2 separate regions of the Homo sapiens genome follow, and region 1 is linked to region 2. The links come from fine-mapping of genetic effects on plasma protein levels. A gene starts in region 2. The other region holds a variant in brackets. All regions are shown on one strand. Distances are between the middles of the regions.

Evidence for each region. PIP is the posterior inclusion probability: the model's chance that the variant is causal. Protein levels are from the aptamer-based SomaScan assay of Sun 2018.
Region 1: its variant is fine-mapped to the plasma level of the PPIL1 protein (Sun 2018, PIP 0.95).

What each region holds. Positions count from the first base shown.
Region 1 is chr6:36,887,832-36,901,497 of GRCh38, reverse strand. It overlaps C6orf89 (chromosome 6 open reading frame 89), which reads right to left. Exons shown (of 9, transcript NM_001286635.2): 2 at 6,895-6,994; 3 at 1,865-2,072. The coding sequence starts at 2,053. Among named protein-coding and RNA genes, the nearest start is that of C6orf89, 8.7 kb to the right of the region's middle. The variant G/A (reference allele first, on the strand shown) is at 3,342.
Region 2 is chr6:36,867,704-36,883,926 of GRCh38, reverse strand. It overlaps PPIL1 (peptidylprolyl isomerase like 1), which reads left to right and starts at 9,124. Exons shown (of 4, transcript NM_016059.5): 1 at 9,124-9,210; 2 at 12,055-12,209. The coding sequence starts at 9,155. It also overlaps a transcript of C6orf89 not described here. RefSeq lists enhancers at 8,904-9,133, 15,799-16,223.

The DNA.
Region 1 (13,666 bases), 19 kb before region 2:
CCGGATGTGGTGATGGGCGCCTGTAGTCTCAGCTACTCAGGAGGCTGAGGCAGGAGAATGGTGTGAACCTGGGAGATGGAGCTTGCAGTGAGCCAAGATCGCACCACTGCACTCTAGCCTGGGCAACAGAGTGAGACTGCATCTCAAAAAAAAAAAAAAAAAAAAAAAAAAAAAAATAATAATAATAATAATAATAATAATAATAATACACAAAGGGGCCGGGCGCAGTGGCTCACACCTGTAATTCCAGCACTTTGGGAGGCCAAGGCGGGTGTATCACCTTAGGTCAAGAGTTCGAGACCAGCTTGGCCAACATGGTGAAACCCCACCTCTACCAAAAATACAAGTATTAGGCCAGGCACAGTGGCTCATGCCTGTAATCCCAGCACTTTGGGAGGCTGAGGTGAGTGGATCACCTGAGGTCAGGAGTTCGAGACCAGCTGACCAACATAGTGAAACTCCCATCTCTACTAAAAATACAAAATTAGCCGGGCATGGTTGCGCATGCCTGTAATCCCAGCTACTTGGGAGGCTGAGGCAGGAGAATTGCTTGAACCTGGGAGGCGGAGGTTGCACTGAGCCAAGATCACACCATTGCACTCCAGCCTGGGCAACAAGAGTGAAACTCTGTCTCAAAAAATAAATAAATACATACATAAAGGCTGGCTGCAGTGGCTCACACCTGTAACCCCAGCACTTTGGGAGACTGAGGTGGGCAGTCTCGAACTCAGTCTGACAGTGATTGACTGGACTCAAGTCACTTGAGCCCAGGAGTTCGAGACCAGCCTGGACAACACGGAAAAACCCCCATCTCTACAAAAAATAGAAAAATTAGCCAGGTGTGGTGGCACATGCCTGTGGTCCTAGGTACTTGGGAGGCTGAGATGGGAGGATCACCTGAGTCTGGGAGTTCGAGGCTGCAGTGAGCCATGATGGCACCACTGCACTCCAGCCTGGGCAACACAGTGTGACCTTGACTAGAAAAATAAAAAATCTGTTCAGGTGCGATGACTTAGGCCTGTAATCCCAGCACTTTGGGAAGCCGAGGAGGGCAGATCACCTGAGGTCAGGAGTTCAGGACCAGCCTGACCAACATGGAGAAACCCTGTCTCTACTAAAAATACAAAAATTAGCCAGGTGTGGTGGCACATGGCTGTAATCCCAGCTACTTGGGAGGCTGAGGCAGGAGAATCGTTTGAACCTGGGAGGCGGAGGTTGCAGTGAGCTGAGATCACGCCACTGCACTCCAGCCTGGGCAACAGAGTGTGACTCCATCTCAAAAAAAAAACAACAAAAAAAAACAAAACACAAGGCCAGGCGTGGTGGCTCACGCCTATAATCCAAGCACTTTGGGAGGCTGAGGTGGGCAGATCACCTGAGGTCAGGAGTTCAAGACCAGCCTGACCAACATGGAGAAAACCTGTCTCTACTAAAAATACAAAATTAGCTGGGTGTGGTGGCGCACGCCTGTAATCCCAGCTACCTGGGAGGCTGAGGCAGGAGAATCACTTGAACCCAGGAGGCAGAGGTTGCGGTGAGCCGAGATTGCGCCATTGCACTCCAGCCTAGGCAACAAGAGTGAGACTCCGTCTCAAAACACACACACACAACAAACAAACAAATAATAAAAAATTAAATAATAATATTACACAAATATAATTTAACTGTAAATATGCAGCTTTCATCTAGGACCTTTAACAACACAGTCAAATTTCCTAGTAACACATGGTAACAAGAGCAAAGGCCAATTTATTCACGGAAAAACCAATGCTCAGTGGTGGGATTAGTCAACAATAGCATTTGTGAAGAATGTTGAACAGTTTGTGTTCTGTTGAAGCAATTACCAACTCAGGAAACATTTTACCTTATACACAACTATAAGGAGAGGATACTGCGGGGGGGGTCTCTGAGGTTCATTCTTTTCCAGCAGCTGTCTGATAAATTTTTCAATTGCCTTCTCTGACATGCCACACTGATGGCCGGTCTGTCTCACCAAATCAACAGTCTCTGAAAGTTTGTCATAAATGCTGATCTCGTTGGCAGCAAGATCCATGTCTTCCAATATAAAATCCCTGAGAGAGACGGAGAGAAAATAAATGTAAAAAGAAAGGTGGTTTCTTTAGGTACTTCCTCTTCAAAGCTACTTGACCATCTGTAGAGAAGGACCAGTTTTGTGCTTTCCTCAATCCTCTACAGACCAATACTTTCATGAAACACAATGAATACACAGAGACAATGTCAAATTGCCATACAAGTTTTAAAATATTCGTTAACTGTGGGCCAGGAACAGTTTACAGACCTGCACTAGTTCCCAAACTAGTGCAAACTGAGGAGCACTGGTCTAGAGCACAATATATCCTAATGGGACTCTGAAGCACTAATGACATCCAAAAAAGATTTCTGACACCAATGATGGGAGATCTGCTACTGGAGATTCCTTAAAATAAAAAAAAAATGGATTATGCACAGTGTTGTTTAACGCTGTTGTTGAACATTTGTGTTCAACACAAGAGGAAGAACTGATCACTGAAGATTACTGAAGGTGATTTACTGAGAGCAACAGGCTGATAAGCTTTGTTCTTGGCAGAGCAAAGATTTCAGACAACACAAAAACCATGGCATGTGGCTTGCAGTCCTCACACTTTTCTTTCTTCTTCTTTTTTTTAATTTCTTCTGGAGCAACCAGAGTCCTCATGCTTTTCTACAAATACAATTTTAGAAAATAAAGGGCATTTTATTTGTATTTTATATACTTAAAATACCTAAGATTTTTAACTAATTTAAAAATTCAATTTGTGTTCCTATAGTTATTTTAAAGACAGATTGTTTCATCATGCCCAGAGAACAAAAGGTAAAAACTAATGGGGCAAAGTAGAGTTCTCTCTGTATCATTTGTAAAATGAAATTAAATAGTTCCAAGGCTGGACGCAATAGCTCGTGCCTGTAATCCCAGCACTTCGGGAGGCTGAGGCAGGCGGATCACCTGAGGTCCGGCGTTTAAGACCAGCCTGACCAACACGGAGAAACCCCGCCTCTACTAAAAATACTAAATTAGCCTGGCATGGTGGCGGGTGCCTGTAATCCCAGCTACTCGGGCGGCTGAGGCAGGAGAATCTCTTGAACTCGGGAGGCAGAGGTTGTGGTGAGCCGAGATCACGCCATTGCACTCCAGCCTGGGCAACAAGAGCGAAACTCCATCTCAAAAAAAAAAAAAGAAAAGAAAAGAAAAGAAAAACAAATTTTAAAAATCAGCTTGGCCTGGTGGCACACACCTGTAGTCCCAGCTACCTGGGAAGCTGAGGTGGGAGGACTGCTTGAGCCCAGGAGTTTGAGGCTGCAGT[G/A]AGCTATGATCATACCACTGCACTCCAGCCTGGGAGACAGAACGAGATCCCATCTCTAGAGAAATAAAATAAGATAAAATAATTAAATGGCTATTTAAAAAGGTGTTTAAGTTACAGAACAATAATATTTTTCTTCATTTACAGGAGGAAGAAGAGTGCTTCTTCGGGTTTGTGCTCTCTTCTACTGGGCTTTATTTATTTATATATTTATTTTCAATACAGAGGGTCCTTTTATTTTGCATACTTCATTCCTACAGTACTTCTAGCCCCAAAAAGTACTGACATAGTACGTGTATTCTCTCAGTAAGGAGATGCTGCCACCTGTAGGGTGGAGGACATAGTCATGTTGTTACAACACAACCCAGCGCACGCCAGCACACCTCCTCTTCCAGCAGTGTGCCTCCCAATCACTCCTGTTTGGTCCTCTTTACGACTATTAAGTGTTTAGTTCATTAGGTCTTAACCTGGCTTGCACATTAGAATCACCTAGAGAGCGTTTCATAAATGCTCATACCTGGGCATCAACTCAGAGCAATTAAATCAGAATCAGAAGACTTCTAATGGTGGATTAAAAGGCATGCAATCTAGACTTCCAGGAACTGGGGGAATGAGAGAAGAGCCCACCACACTATACCCCCCACATTCAGATAAAAAGACAGTACAAACTACAGTTGAGACTTGAACAACATGGGTTTGAACTATGTGGATACACTTAAAAGCTGATTTTTTTCTACCAACCCAGGATTGAAAATACAGTATTTTCAGGGTGCAAAAACTGCATATACATATACAGAGGGATGATTTTTTGTATAAACAGGTTCTGAAGAATCAACTGTGAAACTTGAATATGCAAGGATTTGGGTGTATATGGAGATTCTGGAACGAATACCCTACATATACCAAGGGACAGCTATATAATTTTTAATGTATTATTTTCAATACATGATGCTAGGACCACTGGATATCCACAAATGAGAAAATGAAGTTGGACCTTTCTTTCTTTTCTTTTTTTTTTTTTTTTTTTTTTGAGACAGAGTCTTGCTCTGGTTGCCCAGGCTGGAGTGCAGTGGCGCGATCTTGGCTCACTGCCACTTCCGCCTCCCGAGTTCAAGCGATTCTCCTGCCTCAGCCTCCCAAGTAGCGGGATTACAGGTACCCACCACCACGCCCAGCAAATTTTTTTGGATTTTTAGTAGAGACGGGGTTTCACCATGTTGGCCAGGCTGGTCTCGAACTCCTGACCTCAGGCAATTCGCCTGCCTCAGCCTCCCAAAGTGCTGGGATTACAGGTGTGAGCCACCATGCCTGTCCCTTTCTTTATACTATACACAAAAATTAACTCAAAATGGATCAAATACCTAAATTTATAAGCTAAAATGATAAAACTTCGAAGAAAACACAGAGAGGGAGGCTTCATGATTCTGGGATTCGGCAATGGTTTCTTAGATATGATACCAAAAGAACAAGTAGCAAAAGAAAAAATAAATTGGACTTCATCAAAATTAAAAACTTTTTGTAGAAGACAAGAGGAGGGGAAAAACCTCAAAAATTCTGTGTCTCAATACCATCAAGAAAGTAAAATGACAAGCCACAGAATGGGAGAAAATTTTTGCAAATTATATATCTGATAAGGGGGTGGTCTATATAGAATACATCAAGAATTATTACAAATCAGTAATAAAAAGACAACCAAATAAAAAAATAGACAAAGGATTTGAATAGCCATTTCTCCAGAAAAGATATACAAATGGACTGGGTGCAGTGGCTCACGTCTGTAATCCCAGCGCTTTGGAAGGCCAAGGTGGCAGATCACTTGAGGTCAGGAGTTCGAGATCAGCCTGGTCAACATGGTGAAACCCTGTCTCTACTAAAAATACAAAAATTAGCCGGGTGTGGTGGCAGGCACCTGTAATCCCAGCTATCTGGGAGGCTGAGGCAGAAGAATCACTTGAATCTGGGAGGCAGAGGTTGCAATGAGCCAAGATTACACCACTGCACTCCAGCCTGGGTGACAGAGTGAGACTCCATCTCAAAAAAAGATATACAAAGGACCAATAAACACACAAAAAGATACTCAACATTATTAACCATCAGAGAAATGCAGATCAAAATCACAGTGAGATATCATTTCACATCCACTGGGATAGCTACAATCAAGAAGTCAGACAAAAAGTGTTGGTAAGGACATGGAGGAATTGAAACATAAAATGGTACAGCCACTATGGAAAACAGCCTGGCAGTTCCGCAAAGAGTTAAACACAGTTACCATATGACCCAGCAATTCTACTTCTAGGTATGTGCCTAAGACAAATGAAAACATATGTCCACACAAAAACTTGTGCACAAATGTGAACAGCAACATTATTCATAACAGCCCCCAAATGGAAGTAATCCAAATGTCCATGAACTGATGAAAGGATAATCACAATGTGGTAGAGCCATATAATGCAAAATCACTGGACGATAAAAAGGAATGCAGTACTGATACATGATACAATATGGATGAACCTTGAAAACATTATGCTAGGTGAAAGAAGACAGTCACGAAAAACTACAGATTATATAGCTGCATTTAGATGAGAAGTCAGGAATAGACACATCTTTTTTTTCTTAATACCTTTTTAACAAACCTGCAAGGAATAGGCAAATCTATAGAGATATAAAGTAGATTTCCAGATGGGAAGTGACTTATCTGAGACCACCCAGTCGGTTGTCACCTGAGCCTCATTTCGACCCCACATTCTTTTCACTAAGCCATTTTTGATTAGCAGCCAGGAGGATGGATTACAAAGCATTAAGAGCCATACTAACAATAACACCAAAAAAACCCCCAGAAATTAAGATGTAGCATTTCCAATTAAAAATAATTCAGGAGTAGATGATCTCTGGAAAATGAGATCACAGCTGGTTTTTATTTTCTTTGTGACTTTCATATTTCCCAAACTTTTCCTGTATCAATTTTGTAATCACAAAATTCTCACAGTCACTTCTAAGGAACATCACTGGGCACAAAATGAGTCAGAGATGTACAGCAATGCATGACCATGGCACCATAGGGAAGAAGCAAGGCATGATTTGCCATGCCAATGACTTTTTGGTTCTCTATAGAGTTGTATTCAAATATTACAGCTGGAAAAATGAAACAGCATTGAACCTGGAGACAAGCTTTGCCAATTGCTAGTGAGATGATTTCGGTTAAATTACTTGGTCTACTTCTGCATCCAAAAAATAAGAGGATTGGACTACAAATTTTAGAGTCTCGCTCTAAAATTCTAAGAATCTATGAACACTTCAGGAAGGAGAAAAATTCAATTCATTAGAAACTGAAGACTCATGTTCAATTGCACTCCTATTCCTGTTCCCACCCTATATGCCAGGTGCCTTGCTAAACACTCTGGAAATATTATCTCAGTGAATCACCACTGTGATCCCATAAGGTAGCTGTGATCGATCCCATTTCATACATGTTCAAGGCTCAGAAAGGTTTCATAACTTGCCAGGATGTGAACCCAAGTGTCCTGACTTCAGGGTTGTTGCATGCTGCCTCCCTTACCAAGTTATTTTCCTATTCTGAGCTGGCAGTTCGGAAACCACGTGTCCCTTGATCACAACTGAGCGGCTGAGAACTGGAAAATGATTGACTACAATGATTCCTGCAAATAGAGTAAAGGGATAACTTATTACAACATTTTTCACATCTTGGTTTTGTGATCAGTGATTCTGAGATGCCATTTTCCTGTTTAAACTAACAAAGACATTCTATGAAAGCAAGTAGGAATAATATTCATTTAAATATGTTACAATTCATTATCTAACAATACCCAGTCAAAACCCATTAAAACTCAGTAGAGGACCAGAATGGAAAGGATCCAGAAAGGACTGCTAGAAACAAATTCCAGTGAAAAACTAGTGTGGATGCTGGGAGGTGGGGTCACAAGCAAGTATCCCTGAGGCAGAAGAGAACATCACACACAGAAGAGAACACGGTGTGCCGGTAGGAGAATCCTGAAGGGGACAAAAGTACAGGTGAGGAAAACAGGATTAATCATCATTATTTTTGATGGCTGTTTTGCAACCTTTGTAAGCCTCCTCAAGTCTTTTTTTTTTCCTTTTTTTCCTTTTTTTTTTTTTTTGAGACAGAGTCTCGCTGTGTTGCCCAGGCTGGAGCACAGTGGTGCAATCTTGGCTCACTGAAAGCTCCGCCTCCCGGGTTCAAGCGATTCTCATGCCTCAGCCTCCTGAGCAGCTGGAATTACAGGCTGGGATTAAAGGATGATATTTTTTGTTGTTTAATTACTATCATATCCAACCAAATGCCAACAGTGTCCCTCTAGCAAGACAATAAAAAATGGCACATGCCACCATACCCAGCTAATTTTTGTATTTTTAGTAGAGACAGGGTTTCACCATATTGGCTAGGCTGGTCTCAAACTCCTGGCCTAAAGTGATCCACTCACCTTGGACTCCCAAGTGCTGGGATTACAGGCATGAACCACCGCGCCTGGCCTGTAAGCCTTTTTGATACACATAAAAATCTTATTAAACTCCCAGTTTGTATCACACACAAAAAAATACGTTTCTTTTCTTGTTGGGTAATTCAAGTTAAAATGATATTAAAACACTGAATATATTTTTGCAAGCCATGCATCCTTCTTCCGAGAGATTATGACACATTTCTCAAGTTATCAGAAAGGTAGTTAATAGCAACTTAGTGACGTTTCTAAGAATACCTGTGGATTGTGATAAGCCCTCTTTTTGGCTTTGGTTATATCAGTCGTCCTAAACTGGAAAAGATTCTGCCCCCAGGGATGCCTGGAGACATTTTTTATTGTCTTGCTAGAGGGACACTATTGGGATTTGGTTGGATACGATGGTAATTAAACAAGAACAAAAAAACTCATCCCTTAAAAAAAAAAAAATCAAGGCCGGGCGCGGTGGCTCACGCCTGTAATCCCAGCACTTTGGGAGGCCGAGGCGGGCAGATCACGAGGTCAGGAGATCAAGACCATCCTGGCTAACACAGTGAAACCCCGTCTCTACTAAAAATACAAAAAATTAGCCGGGCGCGGTGGCGGAGGCCTGTAATCCCAGCTACTTGGGAGGCTGAGGCAGGAGAATGGCGTGACCCCAGGAGACAGAGCTTGCAGTGAGCAGAGATTGCCCCACTGCACTCCAGACTGGGCGACAGAGCGAGACTCCGTCTCAAAAAAAAAAAAAAATTCAAACATAAGGTCATTACTATGCATCAAGCATGAGAGGATTGAGTGAAATCGGCTGAGGCTTGATGGCAATCCACTTACCTGCAGAAAGTAGTTCCAACTCTGGCCAAAGTGAGCTTTGCTACAGGGGGAAGTTCTGAAGAGTTAGCCTGATTCTAACAGTGGCATAGACCTGCAAGGGCACAGGCAGGATCACTAGTGGAGTTATTAGGATCAAAGTATCATGCACCACCTCGGATATGCTAAGTTGCCAGAACTGTTAGGAGTGGAGCTCAGGTGTGTACGCTTTCAAGCCTCTTCTCTGCTGATTAAAGGCACACACCCCCAATTAAGAGACACTACTTTACAACAATAGTTCTCAGGGTAATTCTGCTCCAAAGGGGACATTTGGCAATGTCTGAAGACATTTTTGATTATCAAAACTGGACAGGAGTTGGGCACAGCAGCACATGCCTATAGTTCCAGCTACTCGGGAGGCTGAGGCAGGAGGATCACTTGAGGCCAGAAGTTAGAGGCTCAGTGAGTTACGATCACGCCTGTGAACAGCAACTGCACTCCCGGCTGGGCAACACAGGGAGGCTCCAGCTCTTTTAAAAAAATTAAAAATCAACAAACTGGAGGGGTACTATTAGCATCTGGTGGGTAAAGACTAAACATCCTGCAATGCACAGGAGAACCTCCTCCTACCCCTCCTCAAAACGAGGTCAAGAAACCTTGCTTTCAAGAGAGGCCTGTCGGAGGTAAGCCAGGGAGTTGTTTCACTTCTGGAGTACTTCAGAAATAGGAGGAGACAACTGAGAGCTCTGATGAGATGTTCTCCACAATTCCTTCTGGGTCTCTGCCTATGAAGAAACAGGGTAGAGGCATATCTGACAGAAAAACTCTGATAGAACTTACCAATACAAATGTTTCTTTAAAGCAGAAAAGAAGTTAAGAGAAATGTAAACTTCTCTTTTGCCCTGTTTAACAGAGAACTAATTCCTCTATAGAGATAAGTAAGTCCTGAACACTGATATGCCATTACCCTGGACGTTCTGTTTTCTGAAGAGCTATGCCAGCGAGGTAACTCTAGGATAGAAAACTGATTCATCTAGTTAAAGCACAAAAGGGGAAACAGTACAGTTCAAAAGAAAGTTTCAAAAGTCCATCAAGATACATCCCAATCTTCAACACTAGGAGCTATATCCAGAGTAAATTAAATTTTCTTTTTTCTCTACTTGGCTCTTTAATATTACACTACCCATGAAGTATGGTATCCATTCTTTAGTGTTATGAATATATTCCATTCTATTTTATCCAGTGATCCCATTAATTAAATATATGTTCTAGTAAAGAAAAAGTGCTCCTTCAACCATTGTGGAAGACAGTGTGGTGATTCCTCAAGGATCTAGAACTAGAAATACCATTTGACCCAGCCATCCCATTACTGGGTATATACCCAAAGGATTATAAATCATGCTGCTATAAAGACACATGCACACATATGTTTATTGTGGCACTATTCACAAATAGCAAAGACTTGGAACCAACCCAAATGTCCATCAATGATAGACTGGATTAAGAAAATGTGGCACATATACACCATGGAATACTATGCAGCCACAAAAAAGGATGAGTTCATGTCCTTTATAGGGACATGGATGAAGCTGGAAACCATCATTTTGAGCAAACTATCGCAAGGACAGAAAACCAAACACCGTATGTTCTCACTCATAGGTGGGAATTGAATAATGAGAACACTTGGACACAGGAAGGGCAACATCACACACTGGGGCCTGTAGTGGGGTAGGGGAGTGGGGAGGGATAGCATTAGGAGATATACCTAATGTAAATGACGAGTTAATAGGTGCAGCACACCAACATGGCACACATATACATATGTAACAAACCTACACGTTGTGCACATGTACCCTAAAACTTAAAGTATAATAATAATAAAAAGAAAAAGTGCTTCTTAGATTATAATAAGAACCACTACAAAGAAACAAACATCAATTAAAAGGAAAAATAACTGATAAAACATTGAAATGATTAATACGATTTAAAAGAGTAATAACTTAAAACTACAATAAATGCTTAAAATTTACAATCAAGGTACAGGCAGGGCACAGTGGCTCACACTTGTAATCCCAAAACTTTGGGAGGTTGAGGCGGGTGGATCACTTGGGGCCAGGAGCTGGAGATCAGCCTGGCCAACATAACATAGCAAAACCCTGTCTCTACTAAAAATACAAAAATTAGCCAGGCATGGTGACGCATGCCTATAATCCCAGCTACTCGGGAGGCTGAGGCATGAGAATCACTTGAACCTGGGAGGTGGAGGTTGCAGTGAGCAGAGATCACATCATGGCACCCCAGCCTGAGCAACAGACTGAGACTCTGTGTCAAAAGAATAAAATTTTTTTTTTAAATGTAGTATATACATACAATGGAATATTATTCAGCCTTAAAAAAGAAAGAAATCCTGCTATTTGTAACAATACGGATGGACCTGGAGGACATTATGCTAAGTGAAATAAGCCAGACACAGAAAGATAAATACTACATGATACCACTTGTGCGATTAATCTAAAATAGCTAAACTCATAGAAGCAAAGAACAGAATGGTGGTTGCAGGAGGCTGCAGGCAGGGGGAAACAGGGAGGTACTGGGCAAAGAATACAAAGTTTCAGTTATACAAGATGAATAACTCCTAGAGACCTACTATACAGCACAGTGCCCAGAGTTAACAATACTGTATTGTATATTTAAAAATATGCTAAGAAGGTAGGTCTTATGTTAAGTGTTCTTATTGCTAATAGTAATAATAAGTAAGAAGGCAGGAGGAAACTTGAAGGTGATGGATAGGTTGATGGCATGGATCATGGTGATGGTTTCACAAGGGCATACTTATGTCCAAATTCATCAAGCTGTACACATTAAATGTGTAAAGCTTTTTGTACAAAAATAGTACAATGAACACCTGGATATCCTTCATTTAGATTTACCAGTTGTTTACATTTGGCTATATTTTCTTTCTGTTTTTACCAGAACTACTTGAAAGTTATTTGCAACACATTATAAAATCATTTCTAAATATTTCAACATGCATCTCCTAAGAATAACGACGTTATTCTACACACAACCATTGGCATTATTGCCATACCCATTAAAATGAGTAATCTCTTAATATTACCTAATATTCAGTCTATAGTCAAGTTTCCTTAACTATCAAATTTTTTTAAAAAGATCATATAGCTATTTAAAAATCCAGGATCCAACCAATGACCACACATTGAATTTGGCTGCCATGCCTCTCTTTAATCTACTTAACTTCAGAACAAGTCCCCAGTGTGTGGTTTTTCTTTTTTTTTTTGTTTTTGTTTTTTGGTCTTTTAGGACATTGACATACTTGAAGAAGTCTTCACATTTTTAAGCTTACCTCTACTTGCTTCCATCCTCACCCTTTCCAGTTTCTACTATCAGAAAAATGCCATAATAGTTCCTTTCTAAGTTTCTGGTACTCTCTCCCTCCCTCCCTTCAGAGGAAAGCTCCTTTGGGGGTTGGGGGGAGAAAGTAACACACTTTCTTGTTTCTCAGGTTTCCATTCATTTATTAACCTGTTGAAATCATATTTCTGCCTCCTCACTCCACCGACATTGCTTTCACTGAGGCCACAAATGGCTTTCTAAACGCCAAGTTCGAAGGACGTTTTTTTCAGTTATTACCTTATCTGACCTCTCTGCAGCAGCTGCTGTTGCTACCCCATTATCTATCTCCCTCAAGTGTACTCAAACCTTAACATAATTCTCTCGTTCTCTGCTGGTATCCACCAGTTATCCTTGACCTTCTTATTCCCTCCAACACTTTGACCACCAGCTATTGGTGATTCCCAAATCTCTTCTCCAGTCTACAACTCTCTCTAGGGTTCAAGACCCATTTATCTACCTGCCTACCAGACACGGTGATCCAAGTTTCCCATAGCTCCCTGTATGTAATGTGTCTATAACCCAACTTACTGTTTTCCCCTTCAACTCATTCCTCCCACTGCACCTCTTTTCTTAATGGAAACACTAATCCTCCAAATTTAAAAACTATTCTCCTCCTACCTCACTCCCACCAATGAAACTATCACTAAGTCCTCTTGATTCAGCCTCCTATATAATTCTCACATTCATCCCTTCCTCTCTACATTAACAGCACAGTTAAGGTCTTCAACATCTCTCCTATGGACCATCACAAAGATGTAGTTAATCTCTATACTTCCAGTTCTCCTCTTCCCCAATCCATTCTCTACCTTGTCCAGTTTTTTATTTTTATTTTCTGAGACAGGGTCTCACTCTTCGCTCAGGCTGGAGTGCAGTGACATGATCTCAGCTCACTGCAACCTCTGTCTCCTGGCTTCAAGAGATTCTCGTGCCTCAGCCTCTGGAGTAGCTGGGAGTACAGGCACGCGCCACCACACTCAGCTAATTTTTGTATTTTTCTGGTAAAAAATGGGTTTCACCATGTTGGCCAGGCTGGTCTTGAACTCCTGACCTCAAGTGATCCACCCACCTTAGCCTCCCAAAGTGCTAGGATTACAAGCGTGAGCCGCTGCACTCGGCCACTTATTTTTTTGAAACACAAATTGGCTCATGCTAAGCACCTTCCAAGACTCCCCATCCTCTGCAGGAGCAGTTTAGCATGGTGACTAAGAACACAGATACTGGAGTTGGAAAAAGCTGGATGCAAATTCTAGATTTTACCACTTACTGTGTGGCCATGAGACACTACTCATCCTCTCTAAGCCTCAGTTTTCATGTATAAAATGGGGATAATTATTTCTACCCCACAATGTTTTATTTCAGAGAATTATAAAATGATGTAACACATTTGTTCCAATAGCCAGACAAATTAAATACCTAATAACAATCATTTTAAGATAAAGTCCTAAGTCAAGCATGGTGGTTCATGCCTGTAATCCCAACACTGGGAGGCTGAGGTGGGAGGACTGCTTGAGCCCAGGACTTCCAAGACCAGCCTGGGTAACATAGCAAGACCCTGTATCTACAAAAAAAATAAAAATAAAAATTGGCCGAGTGTGGTGGTGCCTGCCTGTAGTCCCAGCTACTTGGGAAGCAGAG
Region 2 (16,223 bases):
ACAGCTGCACAGGTACTTTTCTGTTTAGCCAATTCTATTACTTAGTATAATTTTCAAAGGAGAATTTAAAGTCTGTTGTGTAACGATAGCCTTTAAAGTAGAATTTGCTGTAGAGCCTATTATGAGGGAGACATTTCAAATTATTGCCTCTTTTATTCTAAACCATGGAAAAAGGACCTAACAAATGGATGTCTTTCTAGAAGAGTGAAGGCCTCTTGTCAATGTTCTCTTTAATCCATGATGTGGGTTAAGAGGAGTTTTGACTGATTATGAGGCAATGTATGTACCACTAAAGTTTGTTACCTACATTGGGCCTTCATCTTTTATCTATTGAAATATAAGGTTATTCATGTTTAAGGCTGGCTGCAAAATCCTTCACAAATAAAAGTATACCCTATAAGTGCATATAATAGACCCACTTTTAATTTCTATTGTTCATAGAGGCATAAACAAGGAAAAAATATTCAAAGATAAGAGTCTTGTGATAGTAGAAGTTTTGATCTATGATCTTGGGAAAAGCTATTCTAATCAAGGATGCCATCTTCTGGGGAGAAACTTTTCTGGTTAGTTTTACCTTAAGGGTTCCAATGGATGTACAGTTCCAGGAGTGTGGAGGGACCCTTCTCAGCTGTGAGATTATGAACCCAAGGTTTAAAGCTCCAAAGTTTTGCTGTAGTGTGGATGGCAAGGACAGTCTTTCTCTTTCTCTGGTGTTCTCAGACGATCCAATCTGCAGGTTCTAGATTGTGAAGGGATTGTCCTCAGTGAATCATAAAAAGTTTTCTTTGTCTGGTGAAAATACACTATAATCTACTGTTATAACATCAGCCCTATTGCATGGGAAAGCTTTTATACAACCAGAAAACATGCATTGAAAATGACAATTCAGGCCGGGCGCGGTGGCTCACGCCTGTAATCCCAGCACTTTGGGAGGCCGAGGCGGGTGGATCATGAGGTCAGGAGATCGAGACCATCCTGGCTAACAAGGTGAAACCCCGTCTCTACTAAAAATACAAAAAAAATTAGCCAGGCGCGGTGGCGGGCGCCTGTAGTCCCAGCTACTCGGGAGGCTGAGGCAGGAGAATGGCGTGAACCCGGGAAGCGGAGCTTGCAGTGAGCCGAGATTGCGCCACTGCAGTCCGCAGTCCCGCCTGGGCGACAGAGCGAGACTCCGTCTCAAAAAAAAAAAAAAGAAAAAAGAAAAAAAAAAAAAGAAAATGACAATTGAATGAAATCTCTTTATAAATGTTTAAATGGCCCATCAGGTAGCCAAACGCATCTGAAGCTTTGATCGTCTTTCCAGGAATATGGAACCAAACATTGGATTTAAATTATTTCTGCAATTTATAAGTCACCACATCAATATATTAAATTTGGATTATTTTATCTTTTCCAGAACGTTTAATAACAAAAGCTTTAAGGACTCAAGAAGGACAAGGTGGCCATCCTGGTTCTTCATGAGTCCATGCTTAACACGGGACTTACGTCCTCTTGAATACCAGTTGTTTCTCCAATTTAGGTGCATAGCACTGATAGCTAATGGGTTATCATAGGTAATTTGACTTAGACCATGGAGTTCATTCAAATTGTATATTTAAACAATTTTAGTATTGGCTTATTTAGCATGATAATCTAGAGCTTGATTTTGAAAGGTTTGTTAAATACCAAAGGTTTAAAACATTGGATATTACAAAATAGAATCTTAGGTTACCATAAGTCATTCATTTAGCCAAAATGATAACTTAAAAAATTTTAAAGGAAAAAACAGTATTTTGATAGAAAGGAGACTCAGCTTTCCAAACAAGATCCAATGAGGATAGCATGAGGCCAACTGACTATCTCCTTTCTTTCCTTCCTCAACCATTTTTTTTTGTTGTTTATTTAAAAGGTAAACAAAAACCTTTCATTATCTTTTAATATTAAATAAAAATCCTTTCTAAAAGAGGGAACCAAATTTTATGTTTCCATTAGTGTATTTTTAATGTTAAAGCTAGTTTTTAATAATATTTTAGAAATCTATTCAGTTTTAATTAGTTTGACCATAAGGTAAGATTTTTATAAACCTTTTATAACCCTTTACTATTTTTTTTCTCAGAGCAGAACAATCTTCTAAGAAAACTCTGTTGTGCTTTTATTCCAATGTCCCATTTATGGAAAAAAAAACTGAATAATGCCATTTTAACTTTAGCCAATATGTTCACACATAGAATCCTAATAATTAATTGTTTTGTTTTGTTTTGTTTTGTTTTTTCGAGATGGAGTTTCACTCTTGCTGCCCAAGCTGGAGTGCAATGGTGTGATCTTGGCTTGCTGCAACCTCGGCCTCCCAGGTTCAAGCGATTCTCCTGCCTCAGCCTCCCCAGTAGCTGGGATTACAGGCGTGCAACACCACGCCTGGCTAATTTTTTGTATGTTTAGTAGAAACGGCATTTCACCATGTTAGCCAGGCTGGTCTCGAACTCCTGACCTCAGGTGATCCACCCACCTCAGCCTCCCAAAGTGCTGGGATTACAGGCATGGGCCACCGTGCCTGGCCCCTATAATTAATTTTTATAAACCTTCCACAACTTGTTCAAACCTTTAGCTTTATTTAATTTAAAACAATCCTTTAACCCTCTAACCTAGGCAAAAATTTACATTCCTGTATTTTCTTATAATCTCTTACAAAAAACACATTTCATTCTCCTTACACACCTTGCATGTAAACCTATTTTTTCAGTACTCTCAATTACATATTACAATGTTAACTCTTAGCAACTTTTACTTTTGGTGAAAACCTTGGTAAGTAAGGATTTTAATTATGTACTAGGTGTGGAGCCCAGGACCCAGACAGAAATGCAGATAAAGGTCCGACTCTTTCCAGCATCTAACTACAGGTGTCCCAGGCCTTACCTAGCTATAAAGCAGGCAGGCTGTACAGTTAAGAGTCATGGTGGCATTTTATGAAGCATTTAGGAGGCCTAATCACCTTAAATTGTACAACATGTCTGGCATGAATTCCTTTTCATAAATTTTTTCACAACTTACACAGACTATGTGTGACATGTTTAGACTTTCTGACTTGCCCTAAACATCCCTCTTTTTAAACAACCAGTCATTTTACTTTAGGACAAGAATTTACCATACAACATCCTTTCTTAATGAAATCTATTTTCTTTATAGCCTTTGTATAGCTAGGGGGCATGGCTAATTCCATATATCCCCAGGCCTTATTTAGAATTTAATGTCTCCAAAATAAATTGAACAATTTTCAAAAGTCAAAGCAGTTTATGACCTTGAAGCATATAGCAAAGCTAATATCTGACCTGCATAATTTAGACAAAATGTCTTTATCAATAATATTTAAAGTTGTTTTTATTTCCCAAAGATTACTAAAGTTACATGAACCAAGAGGCATTACAGTTTTTATTTTGCTTTCAAAATATTTAAGTGCTTATTTTTGTTTAAGCCAATTAATTTGAGCTCTTTTATATAAACATTACACACAATACATATATAATTAGACAGACAGGCAGAAGAAGATTACTATAGTAGTTGTAAGATTTTTCTTTTGCCAGTTTTTAAGTTTCTTAATTGGTTATTGGCTTTATGGTGGAGTCCTTGGAGGAACAGGGCCAGGAAAAGGGTTTCTGGTGCCTCCTGTTTTTCCCATGGATTCCAGGCCATTAGAGCCTGAATATTCATTTTTTAATTAACCTGACTTTTAAGCATAGCACTCTTTAATAAAGTCCTTTTAAATTTCTTATTACTGATTTTACCCAGGCCAAATGGCTGATATTTCTGGCTTTTGAACTTTACCAAAGGTAACTTCCTAGGTGCTCGAGGAAGGAAAATTTAAGATAGTCTGTGGAGGAGAAGAGACTAGAGAAGGTTATGCAGATATTAAATCAGAAATGACTTACTTCCTAAGCAGGGAATGGAACTGGAACCGCCAGTGTGAAAGGCCAGTGAGCCACAGCACAGAGCAGTCTACTGCCCTTCCCAGAAGGAGTCTAGAGTAGTTAATTTTGAGCTTGCAGAGGCTTTTAATGACTCAGGATAATTTTTAGAGCTAACTATGGCATAAACCCTAAAATCCCTGTTCCCTAGAAGGTGGAGACCAAGAGAAAGTACTGCCACGTGGTTACGAGGTCAAGTTCCCAAGGACATAAAACAAGATGGAGACCCCATCCAGTTTTTTTTTTGTGTTTCAGGGACCTGCAGGAAAGTTTGTTATTGACCAGCGAGCTTGTGGGGTCCTAAGCCCGTGTTTTATCCTAAGGTACCCCTTGACCCAGAAAAACGAATTCATAGCACAAATACATCAGTTTAAGACTAACCTCAGAATTTTTTTTGCATTAATCAAAACCTTAGAGAAGAGATAAATAAACAGTGATTTTTACCATTCATTCAACCATTTGCACAGAGAGAGAGAAGCCAAAAATCTGACTGGTAAGAAATTCTTACTCTTTTGCTGGCATGCCAGCCTTCTGGGTTCCCTTTCCCTCAGCGGCCCCAGTGACCCAGCTTGCCACACCATCACACTGGGGGCCAAGCCGCATCATAAAGGAAAAATTTTTTGTTGTTGTTCCGGCCAGAGCAAAATACATGTGATAAAACACAGACATTAGCCACTCTGCTTAGCACTCAATATCAAACTGGCAAGGTTTATATTTGCCCTCAGATGGGCCCCGTTATCTTTAATCCAATGTCTGACTAGGGGTTTCAACACGTGATCTCTGGGCAAGCTGGTTGCCCTGAGTAATAGAAAAGATAAAAAAGGGAAAGGAAAGAGAGATCCGAGAGGGAGCTTACCTGTGATCCCCAGCTGCTGTGAGAGATCAATAGACACAAGTGGATCCTGCAGGTACCTTGCATGTTCACTCAGTGCTCCTGGGGGTCGCTAGAAGCTCCACTTTAGATCCCATTCCTGACACCATCTGATAAAAGAAAAACTTTGGCTGAATTAAGTTTGAAGGAGTTTAATTGAGCAATGAATGATTCGCAAATCGGGCAACTCCCAGAATCACAGCAGATTCACAGAGACTCCAGGGGTGACTCGTGATCAGAACAAATTTATAGACAAAAAGGTAAACTAACGTACAGCAATAGGAAGTGAGGTACAGAAACAGCGAGATTGGTTAAAGCTCAGTGTTTGCCTTATTTGAATGCAATTTGAACATTCGGCAGTCTATGAGTTGTTGAAGTATGGCCGCTGGGATTGGCCAACATTCAGCTATTGTTACAGGTATATACTATTAAGTTAAGTTTTCAAATTTGTCTGACTATAAAGCTAGGTTATAGTTCATCCACAAGGACTCAAATATAGAAGTACAAAGCCCTTCTCAGGCCATATTTAGTTTGCTTTAACACTGTGACAGACTGTACTAAGCACTTTCAATTCATGGAGCCACTTCATCAACCCTATGGCATAAATAGCCCCATAACATCCTCATACAAACAAAACTGAAGTTTATGGAGAGGTTAACTTGCTCAAGATTTTACAGATAAGGAATGGAAGGATCAGCATTTGAACCCAGACTCCTTAACCTGCCCTGTGTGTAGCGCCAAATCTCTTAACTGCTTTCTACAAGAAATCTGCAAACAAAATACTACTGGGTTCAGACTAATGCTATAGCTACAGAGGTAGTGTGACAGTGACATAAATGTATGAAACCAATGAAACAGAATAGAGAGACCAAAACCAGAAAACACATATATGGACACTTGATTTATGACAAAGAGGTGAAACAGAGGAGTGAGGAAAAGATAATGCTTTCAATCAATGGTGCTGGGTCAATTGTATATCCATATAGAAAAAAATGAAACTTGGCTCCTACCTCATACCATACACCAAGATAAGTTCTAGATGCATTGCAGATCTATATGATAAAAACAAAACAGAATTATAGAGCTGCAATATTGAGATGTCCAATAATGTCTGTCCAACACTGACATGTTCTGTAAGAGAGAAAATGCATATGTTGGACTACATTAAAATTAGAAACTTTCCAGTGTTATATTCTGTCCAGGATATATAAGGAACTTTACAAATAAGAAAACAGCCAAATAGAAAAATAGGTAGAAGATTTGAACACAAAAAGGTATCACAAAGAGGATATCTAAATGGCACACATATGGAAAAAGAATTCAACTTCATTAGTCATTAGTTGTTAGTGAAATTACTACTGAGATATTGTTATAGAGGCTTCAGGATTCCTTAAATGAAAAAGACTAGCAATACTAAGAGTTGGCTTGGAAGCAGAGCAACAGCAATTCTCACAGGCTGCTGGTGCATACATAAATTGCTACAGCCACTGGCCAGGCGTGGTGGCTCATGCCTGTAATCCCAGCACTTTGGGAGGCCAAGGTGGGCAGATCACAAGGTCAAGAGATTGAGACCATCCTGGCCAACATGGTGAAACCCTGTCTCTATTAAAAATACAAAAATTAGCTGGGTGTGGTGGCATGCGCCTGTAGTCCCAGCTACTCGGGAGGCTGAGGCAGGAGAATCGCTTGAACCCACGAGGTGGAGGTTACAGTGAGCTGAGATTGTGCCACTGCACTCCAGCCTGGCGACAGAGTGAGATTGTGTCTCAAAAAAAAACAAAAAATTGCTACAGCCACTTTGCAACAGTCTAGTGTTAACTACTAAATTATACATGTTACCTATGACACAGCAATTCTGCTTCTAGGTATATACTCCCAAAAATTCATGCACAAGTGCACTAAGATACATACACAAAATATCCATCGCAGCACCATTATACATTGTGGTATGTTTGTACAACAGAATACTACACAGCAAGGAAAAATGAAAAATGGCCACTACATACAACATGAATACATCTCACAAACATATTGTTAAGGAAAGGAAGCCAGGCACAAAAAAATACGTACTTTATAACTCCATTTATATAAAATTCAAAAACAGGGAAAACCAATCTATGATATTAGAAGGCAGAAAGTGGTCTACCCTTTGGGAGGAAGGAATGGGTAATGATTAGTAGGGGGGCTTCTGAGGAATTGGAGACATTTTATTTCTTGATTTGATTTGACCCCTCATGGCTTCTGGCTAACTCCAATTTATTTTCTGGATCTCAACCCAGGCTGTCACTCCAGGGGAAATTTTTGACTGTCCAAACCTACTCTGGAGTAACCAGAGCTCAGGGAAAACTGTGTTTCTTCTTCTTCTTCTTCTTCTTCTTTTTTTTTTTTTTTTTGAGATGGAGTTTCACTTTTGTTGTGCAGGGTGGAGTGCAAAGGCAAAATCTCTGCTCACTGCAGCCTCCACCTTCCGTGTTCAAGTGATTCTCCTGCCTCAGCCTCCGAAGTAGCAGGGATTACAGGCATGCACCACTATGCCCAGCTTATTTTGTATTTTTAGTAGAGACAGGGTTTCACCATGTTGGTCAGGTTGGTCTTGAACTCCTGACCTCAGATGATCTGCCCGCCTCGGCCTCCGAAAGTGCCAGATTACAGGTGTCAGCCACTGCACCCAACCTACTGTGTGCTTCTTATTACAGTCCTCATTCCACGCTCCTACAGCTACGTATTTAGTTGCCCATCTCTCCTAGAATGTGAGTTTCTTTAGGGCAGGGCACTGTGTGTGTGAGACTCATCTCTGTCTCCTCAGTGCCAAGTGACTGGTAGGAGCTGCAGTAAAAGATTTAGGAAGAAAGTGATCATGATCTTGGGGGTGGCTTTTCAATATTCAGACATTGGAGCCTGGGAATGGCACATGACTCCCGAGATACACAGTAAAGAACTACATAAAGTCCAGAGAAAGGCAACTTAACAACAGACTAAACAGACCAAGGATTAAGACTTTTTCATCCAGCTCAAGGGCCACAAGGTGGGCATGAACTTGAAACTGCAGGAGGTGTAAAAATTATACTTTAGCATTTATCAGTTTAAAATGTAGTGTTCCGTTCATTATTCATTCAGCAAAGCTGAGCACCCTGTGCTCTGTACTGTGCAAGAAGAGCACAAAGATGAAGGAGGCCCAGCTCCTCTCTCAAGGAGCTGTCTAGTTTATCTTTACAACCTTGTACATCCTTATTCCTTGTTGACAATTAGGGACATTACAGTTGAACTGTCGTTAAGAGCACAAGTGCACCAGCTGTAGTACTTTAAGCAAGTTATTTAATCTGTAAGGCTCAGCTTCCTCAAAGTAAAATGGGAATAGTAATATCTACCTTGTGGGATTTTGAAGATTAAGCGTGAAAATACGCAATAAAATGCTTAGCTTGATGCCTGGCACATGGTAAACATTCAACCATCATTATTAAGTGGTGTGCAAAGCATTTACAGCGTTAAGTTTAGGTACTCTATTTCATTTTTGTCCTCCCTCCAAACATTATAGCTCCTCTAATTTGCTTCTGTTCCTCGCGCCCTGCGCAAACCCTCCTAACAACTTTCAGGTACCATCTATCCCAGCCAATGTTAAGCCTTGTTCTTGCTCTGATCCGTTTGTCCTGTTTTCTCCTGTCTCTTCCTTTCTTTATCTCCTATTTTCTTCCTGCCCCTTCCCTCTCTTTTCTCCTCAGACTCCTCGTCTTTGGATTCTGCAGGCTCAGATTTGCTTTATGACTATGGAAAAACAAGTATTAACTGCCGAGTCTATTTTCAGATCTGAAAAATGGTAATAATACTATCTACTTATAGAATTGTTTTGTGGAGTAGATGAGATAAGAAAGTGCAAGCACTGTGTACATCGTACAGCGCCTTACAAAAATTCTTTACTGGCATCTCTAAACTACCCTCTTTCATTCTCTGCCTCCCCTTCCCGTCCCTGCCCAATTGTGAGACTAAGAAATTCTTCGAATTTAATATTAGGACATAACTCCAACCAGAGCGCAGCTTTTCTGGTTGTTCCCGCCTTCCATGCCTAAACGAACCAATCAGATCGCCCAGAGTGGCGCGGTATCGCCACTTGGAGACCACCGCGAATGAAGTTTGCATTTTCCTCTGTTCTTGAGCCCAGCTTCTTCTCGTCTCCCACCCCAGCTTCCCGGCATTGGAAGAAGGGACCGTCCTCTTCCTTGTCTTGGCCACCCAAATCCTGGTATCGAAAGGGTTGAACGGACCGGAAGTGTGCAGCAGCGACGGGTCCCCAGCTAATCGACGCCGGAAGTAGCAATTACTAGACAAGCATTCCGCCGCCGGCTTCGCTATGGCGGCAATTCCCCCAGATTCCTGGCAGCCACCCAACGTTTACTTGGAGACCAGGTGAGGGGGTTCGGGCGTCTGGGGCTGGCAGAGGAGACGCGGAGCCCGGGCCTCACCACGGGTCTGCGTTCCTGGCGCGTTCCTCCGGGAGGCCGGCCTCCACGTGGAGGGGCGTGGAGCAGCGGCCGAGACGGCCCCCAGAGGGTTGAGAGGGGACCGCCATCGCCCGCGTCCAAGCTCCGCGGGGTCTTGTGCTGAGGTCTCAGCAATAGCTGCCTGATTGTCCTCCTTCCCCCAGTCCGCTCATTCATTCATTCATTCATTCAACAAACGTGTAATGAGTCCGCAAGCCAGGCATATGGAATATGAGTTCTGAGGATACAGAGGTAGATAAAACACAGACAGCCCTGCCTTTAGGAGCTTACGGTATAATGAAAGAGACAGACATGTAAACATTACGTGATAAGTAATACAGTTGTAGAAACAAATTCCAGTAAAATACAGGAAGAAGCACATTTTCCCCACTATCAAAGAGTGATGTGGTAACCAACCTGCTGGCGCCATGCCCCGCTGTATGTCATCTCATTTAGTTTAATCTTAGCAACTCAAATCATGAAGGTATTATTTAACTTTCTCCCTTTCAATATTAGCAGGAGGAAACGCCGGAATTTACAGCTTAAAGCCTTGACCAAAGCCACACAGCTAGTAACTGGAAGAACCTCGTTTGGAGCCTGGTGTGCTCGTCTCACCTTGCTAGATCCTTTAGCTCTATTCATTCCATTGCCTCTTTGGAAAAAGCTCAAAGTGATCTTTACAAAGTAGGACAAGGAAGGGATCCTGCTCAAAAAACCTTTAATAACGTCTTGCTGCTATAACAGTATAAAGTAAAAACGTATTAATCCTGACATTCAAGGTGATTTTTTTCATCTGGCCCTTGTCTACCTGCCATTCTCCCCTCAACAGCCAGGGACCAGCCAAGGTCCTCTGCCTTTCTGTTCTTGCCCATTGCTGCTTTCAGCTAAAGCAGAGTTCTGTCAGTCCTCTCTCTATTTGCTCATGCTGTTCATTTCATGCTCCCTGGCCATCTTCCCCACCTTATATGGCAAAATTCTACATCTTCAGGCTCCAACCTGTAATTTCTGAATTCTCCTGTTGGTATTTTTTAAAGTTACAAAATAAATTGTTAAATCCAAGCAATGTAGACATACAGAGTAAGAAGTGAAAGTCACCTCCTTCCTGAAAACACCATCAACAGTTTGTTGGATGATTGTCCAGACTTTTTTCTATGTACATATAAACCTCTCTCATGTTTTTTTAACAAAAAAATGGGATCATATGATCATACTGTATGTATGTTTTTTCTGTAACTTGGTTTTCTTTCACTCAGTAATTCAGGTAGCTGCCCATAGTATGGATAGTTGATATTTTAGGCATTTCCTATTTCAAGGACATTTAAGTTGCTTCCTTTTTTTTTGGCTATGACAAATACTGAGATGAACATCCTTGCACATATTGTATCCTTAGGCACTTTTGTATATTTTCCTAGAGGATACTTGGAAGTTGAAATTACTGAGGTATGCACATTTCAGAATTGTATACGTACTTCCTGATTGTCTTTCCAAAAGGCTACTTTCTGTATTTTGAAAATATCCTCCAGAATGTAAGCTTCATGAGGGAAAGAGTACCACACACAGAGTAACTGTCAATCTGTGTTGAATGGGAGCAGTGTGAAAGATGAATTGGATGAATTTCAGGCAGAAAGGCTGTTAGCTATTTTCTAGCACACTCCTCATATACTTATAGAGTGTTTACACTGTGCAAGGCACTGGGTATCCAGACTATACAGAGTTGACTCAATTCTCACATCTGGCCAGGTGCCATAGCTCACATCTGTAATCCAGCACTTTGGGAGGCCAAGGCAGGTAGATTGCTTGAGCCCAGGAGTTCAAGACAAGCCCGGGCAACATGGTGAAACCCCATCTCTACAAAAAAATACAACAAATTAGCTGAGCTTGGTGATGCATGCCTGTAGTCCCAGCTACTCAGGAGGCTGAGGTGAGAGGATCACTTGAGCCCGGGAGGTGGAGGTTGCGATAAGCTGAGATTGTGCCACTGCACTGTAACCTGGGTGACAGAGGAGACCCTTTCTCAAAAAAAAAAAAATTGTCACATCCTTGGAGCTTAAAGTCTAGGTATGTGCTGGAGTAGAGGGGAAGGCACTCGTCCTTTCTCTTGCCTCTTCCTTATCTTTTAGTAGTACTGGTGAGGAAAAAGCACTCATCCTATTGGGTAGGTGCAAAGATTCAAAGTTACCAGGTTTTGCCTTTGTTATACTCCCTCCCAAACAAACACAAACTGTACCTTTTATTGAAATTTTTTGAATAGGTAATGTATTTACATGGATCAAAAATACAAAAGTTTTTAAAAGGTATTCATTAAACATCTTCCTATTTTCCATCTACCCAGTCCCTACCCCCACCCAGAAACTTCTAAATAAATATGAACTCCTGATATTTTAATGTCTCTTTTTTTAAAAAATTAAAAATTAAGTGTAAGAATTTTTTTCCTAATTTAGGGGTTGGTTATATTGGTTTCAGATAATCAGATATAGCTATATATATATACATATGTATATATGTATAGTATTAGAATTTTGAGTTCTCCATGCTTGTTATTTTGCTGAAAAGAAGTACCCAGAACACCTGCGTGTTTTACTCAAAAAAGATAATGGGTGTTTATGTTACTTGCATTGTGGTGTTTTCCTTTGCTGAGCATGAAATCCAGTGGTTATCACAATTTCATGACTTACAAGCTTGAAAATCAAGAGTCCTGGAGCAGTTCCATAATACTCCTGTCTGCCCTGACCTTTTTGTTTACTGGAGCTGTTGTCCTCTCCCTCTGCAGCATGGGAATCATTGTGCTGGAGCTGTACTGGAAGCATGCTCCAAAGACCTGTAAGAACTTTGCTGAGTTGGCTCGTCGAGGTTACTACAATGGCACAAAATTCCACAGAATTATCAAAGACTTCATGATCCAAGGAGGTGACCCAACAGGGACAGGTACAGTTAAGCCAACATTAGTTTATGTTTTCTTTTTTTTTTCTCCTTTTCGTCTTTTTTTCTAAAGCCAGCATTAGTTTCTGAAGTCTCTGTCGTAAATAGGTGATAAGGCAGCCAGAGCTCTCTTTTCCACTTACTAAGGTCTGTGTTGGTTGATTCTGGTGACAACGCCTGCCTTCCTCAAACACACATGTGTGGAATTGACCAGAAACCAACCTTTACTCCTAGGCTTGGTAGAGTTTTTCATAACTTACATGTACTGCTCACTAAGAACAAATAATATTTGTCTGAATTATAGTGATGCAAGTAGTCTGATCAATAAGAAGGAAAGACTTTATAATATTTTGAGAATAATAAAATCCTGGGTTCTTTTATCGATTCATTCATTTAACAAATACTGAGTACCTGTTTTGTGTCAGATACTTTTTTAAGCTCTAGGGAGATACCTATAAACAAAGAGACAGAATTATTGCTCTCAATAAAGCAGGAAAAGGGTGTGGGGATGGAATTTTAGTAGAAAAGTCAGGGAACTCCTCTCTGACATTATTGGAGAAGAGATCTGAATGAAGTAAGAAAGTGAACCTTGCAACTGTGGGGAGAACATTTTGGATGGAGGGAAGAGCAAACACAGAGGCCCTGAGGCAGGAACCTGTGCTGGAAATCATAAGATATGATACCTTATAGGGCATGGTAGAGACTGGGTTTTATTCTGAGTAAGATGTGATGTGAGTCATTGGAGAGTTTTGAGCAAAGGAAAGACATGATCTGATCTATGCTTTAAAAGGATCACTCTAGGCTGGGCACGGTGGCTCACGCCTGTAATCCCAGCACTTTGGGAGCCCGAGGCAGTTGGATCATTTGAGGTCAGGAGTTCAAGACCAGCCTGACCAACATGGTGAAACGCTCTGTCTACTAAAATACAAAAATTAGCCGGGCGGGTTGGTGGGCACCTGTAATCTCAGGTTCTTAGTCGGGAGGCTGAGGCAGAAGAATTGCTTGAACCCAGGAGATGGAGGTTGCAGTGAGCCAAGATCGCACCACTGCAGTCCAGCCTGGGTAACAGATTGAGACTCCCTCTCAAATAAATAAATAAATAAAAGGATCACTCTAGCTGCTGTTTAGAGAATAGATGTAGGGGCAAGATGTAAACACTATGTAAATAGTTGTTGTACTGTATTGTTTGGGGAGTAATGACAAGAAAAATAGTTCTATACATGTTCAGTACAGATGCTTCCCCCCAAGATGTTTTCAGTCGCGGTTAGTTGAACCCATGAATGTAGAACCCACATGTAGGGAGGGCCGACTATGCTCATGAGTAAGTAGTTGGATAGGAATATGGGGTTCAGGGAAAGACCTGGTATGGAGGTATTAATTTGGGAGTTACTGGCATTTAGATGGGGTTTATTAGTGAACTGGTGGAACCCTTACTCATTTCAAGGGCCCTTGCTTCTCAGTCTGCTTCTTCTCTGCTAATTTCTGCTCGTTTGCCTTTAAACAAGTTTGGTTTTCTCTATAGCAGAGTCTTTTCTCAGTCTTGTTCTTTTTTGTCATTCTTAATCGTCTCATGATTTATCATCTATGGTCAGAAGCATTCAGGTTTTTGGGTTTTTTTTTTTTTAATGTATATGGATGCATTTCAAAATACAGAATATATAAGAAAGCAGAGAAAAGGGGAAAAATCATTCATAAGCATAGCTCCTAAAGATTTCTAACCATCATTAACTAATCCCTAAATATCCCATCTTTCAGAAAGGAACAGTGTTAACTTTTGGTGCCCATCATGTCTGGTTTAAGGGATGACAGGATAAATGGAAGTAGTTTCAAAAAAATAGGATATATAAGCTATTGTTTTTAAAACAGAACATATTACATTTAATTTCATATATATAGAACAGAATATTTGACTTCCTACAGTGAAAGATGAGGCAATTAGTACTTAAATTTCTACCCATTCTTATTTTTCCCCGACCTTAATTTTTGTTGTTAGTTTTATTATTATCTGTTCTGCACTCATCATTCCTTCAGCTACAGTGTGGGTCCTACGTTTCAGTGTATTTAGTGTTCACAACTTGCTTCGCTTTTACCTTCGCAAGTGCTGGAGGGCAGGATTTCTTGTCTAGTGGTTTTTTAGTGTTTTTTTTTCAGAATGCTCAAGAATCACAATTGTCCAGTGGTTTTTTGTTACAAGAGCTGGAATGTGTTGTATTTTTAAGTTCATTCATGTTTCAGAATTTCTGCCTGTTACTTTTATACTTGAAAAGAGATAGCATGTTGGCATGCTCAGCCCCCTCACTGTGTGATGCACTGTGCCACTTTGGGACTTCACAGAGTCCCCACCAGCAAGAAGGCTCTCACCAAATGTGGCCACTTGACCTTGGACTTCTCAGCCTCCACAACTGTAAGAGATAAATTACTTTTTTAAAATAAATTTTTTAGGCCAGGCATGGTGGCTCACACCTGTAAGCCTAGCACTTTGGAGGCTGAGGCGGGAGGGTCACTTGAGTTCAGGAGTTCAAGACCAGCCTGGGCGACATAGTGAGACCCCGTCTCTACAAAAAATAAAAAATTAGCTGGGCATGGTCGCATATGCCTGTAATCCCAGCTACTGGGAGGCTGAGGTAGGAGGATCACTTGAACCTGGGAGGTTGAGACTGCAGTGAGCCATGATTGTGCCCACTGCACTCCAGCCTGAGCGACACAGTGAGACACTATCTCTAAATAAATAAATTAAAATAAAATAAAAATATTTAAAAGGAAGAAAAAAAGACCATAACTGGGTATAGCATTCTGAGATCTTTTTAGACATTTCTGATCAATTGCCTTCTGGTTTGGTTTTTTGTTGTTGTTTGTTTTTGTTGTTGTTGTTGTTGTTTTTGGAGACAGGATCTTGCTCTGTCACCTAGGCCCAGGCTCGAGTACAGTGATACAATCATGGCTCACTGCAATCTCCATCCCCTGGGCTCAAGCATTTCTCCTACCTCAGCCTCCCGAGTAGCTGAGACTACAGGCATTCACCAGCATGCCTCACTAATTTTTAAATTTTTTATAGAGTTGAGGTCTCACTGTTGCTGAGGCCGGTCTCAAACTCCTGGGCCTAAGTGATCCTCCTGCCTCGGCCTTCCAAAATGTTGGGATTACAGGCATGAGCCATCATGCCTGGCTGCCTTCTCATTTTTGAATATGGTTTTGGAGAATACTGAGGCCAGATTTACTCCTTCCTTTACATCAGGGTTAATTTTTTGATTTCTATTTCTGAATATTTTCTCTGTTATACTTACTGGATTTTCTATTTCAGGAAATATAGTTATTTGTTTCATCACCTTTGCCTTCCATATCTATCATATTTCTTTTGATTGTGTGATAGGATTTTTTTTTCTTTTTTCCCTGCATTCACTAAAATAATCTCAGACCTTTACTCTGTGCCTTACTCAATTTTCAGTCATTTTTATTCTGTTCTTTACTGCTCTAATTTATCTACTAGCTCATTACTGATGCCATTTGAATCTAAATTTGTTTCCTTCACTCTGCAATCTTTTCATCTTATTCTGTGGTGTATTATCTTGTCTTTGAGCTTTTGTTATATTATATTTTTACTTCTCTTGAATCATCCATAGCTTGAGATAGCCATGGAGAAGCCACTTTCTCCCAGGCTGAGTTCCTGGGTTTTCTTTTCCTTTCTCCCCTCCTCCTTTCTGTCCTTCTGTTGGTTGTGGTATGTTTGCCTAGTTTCCATGCCATTTGTTTTCATCTTATCCATGCTTGATGTCAACACCTACATTATCCCCACCTTTTACTTGCTCAGATACAGTGTAAGTGGAGTCTCCTTGTCATTCTCCCCACTTATGTGGAACTGGTTGTCTTCCCCACTTCAAATGTTAGGTTGCTTTCTCTCTATTCTATTCTAGCCTGAAGAGGTGTGGGAGAGAACTGGAGCTCAGCTCATGCTGAGCGAGCCCCTTGTGGGAGGGCTAGCCTCTGTTCTATCTTCCCAGACTCCCTTAAAGTCTTGTCCCA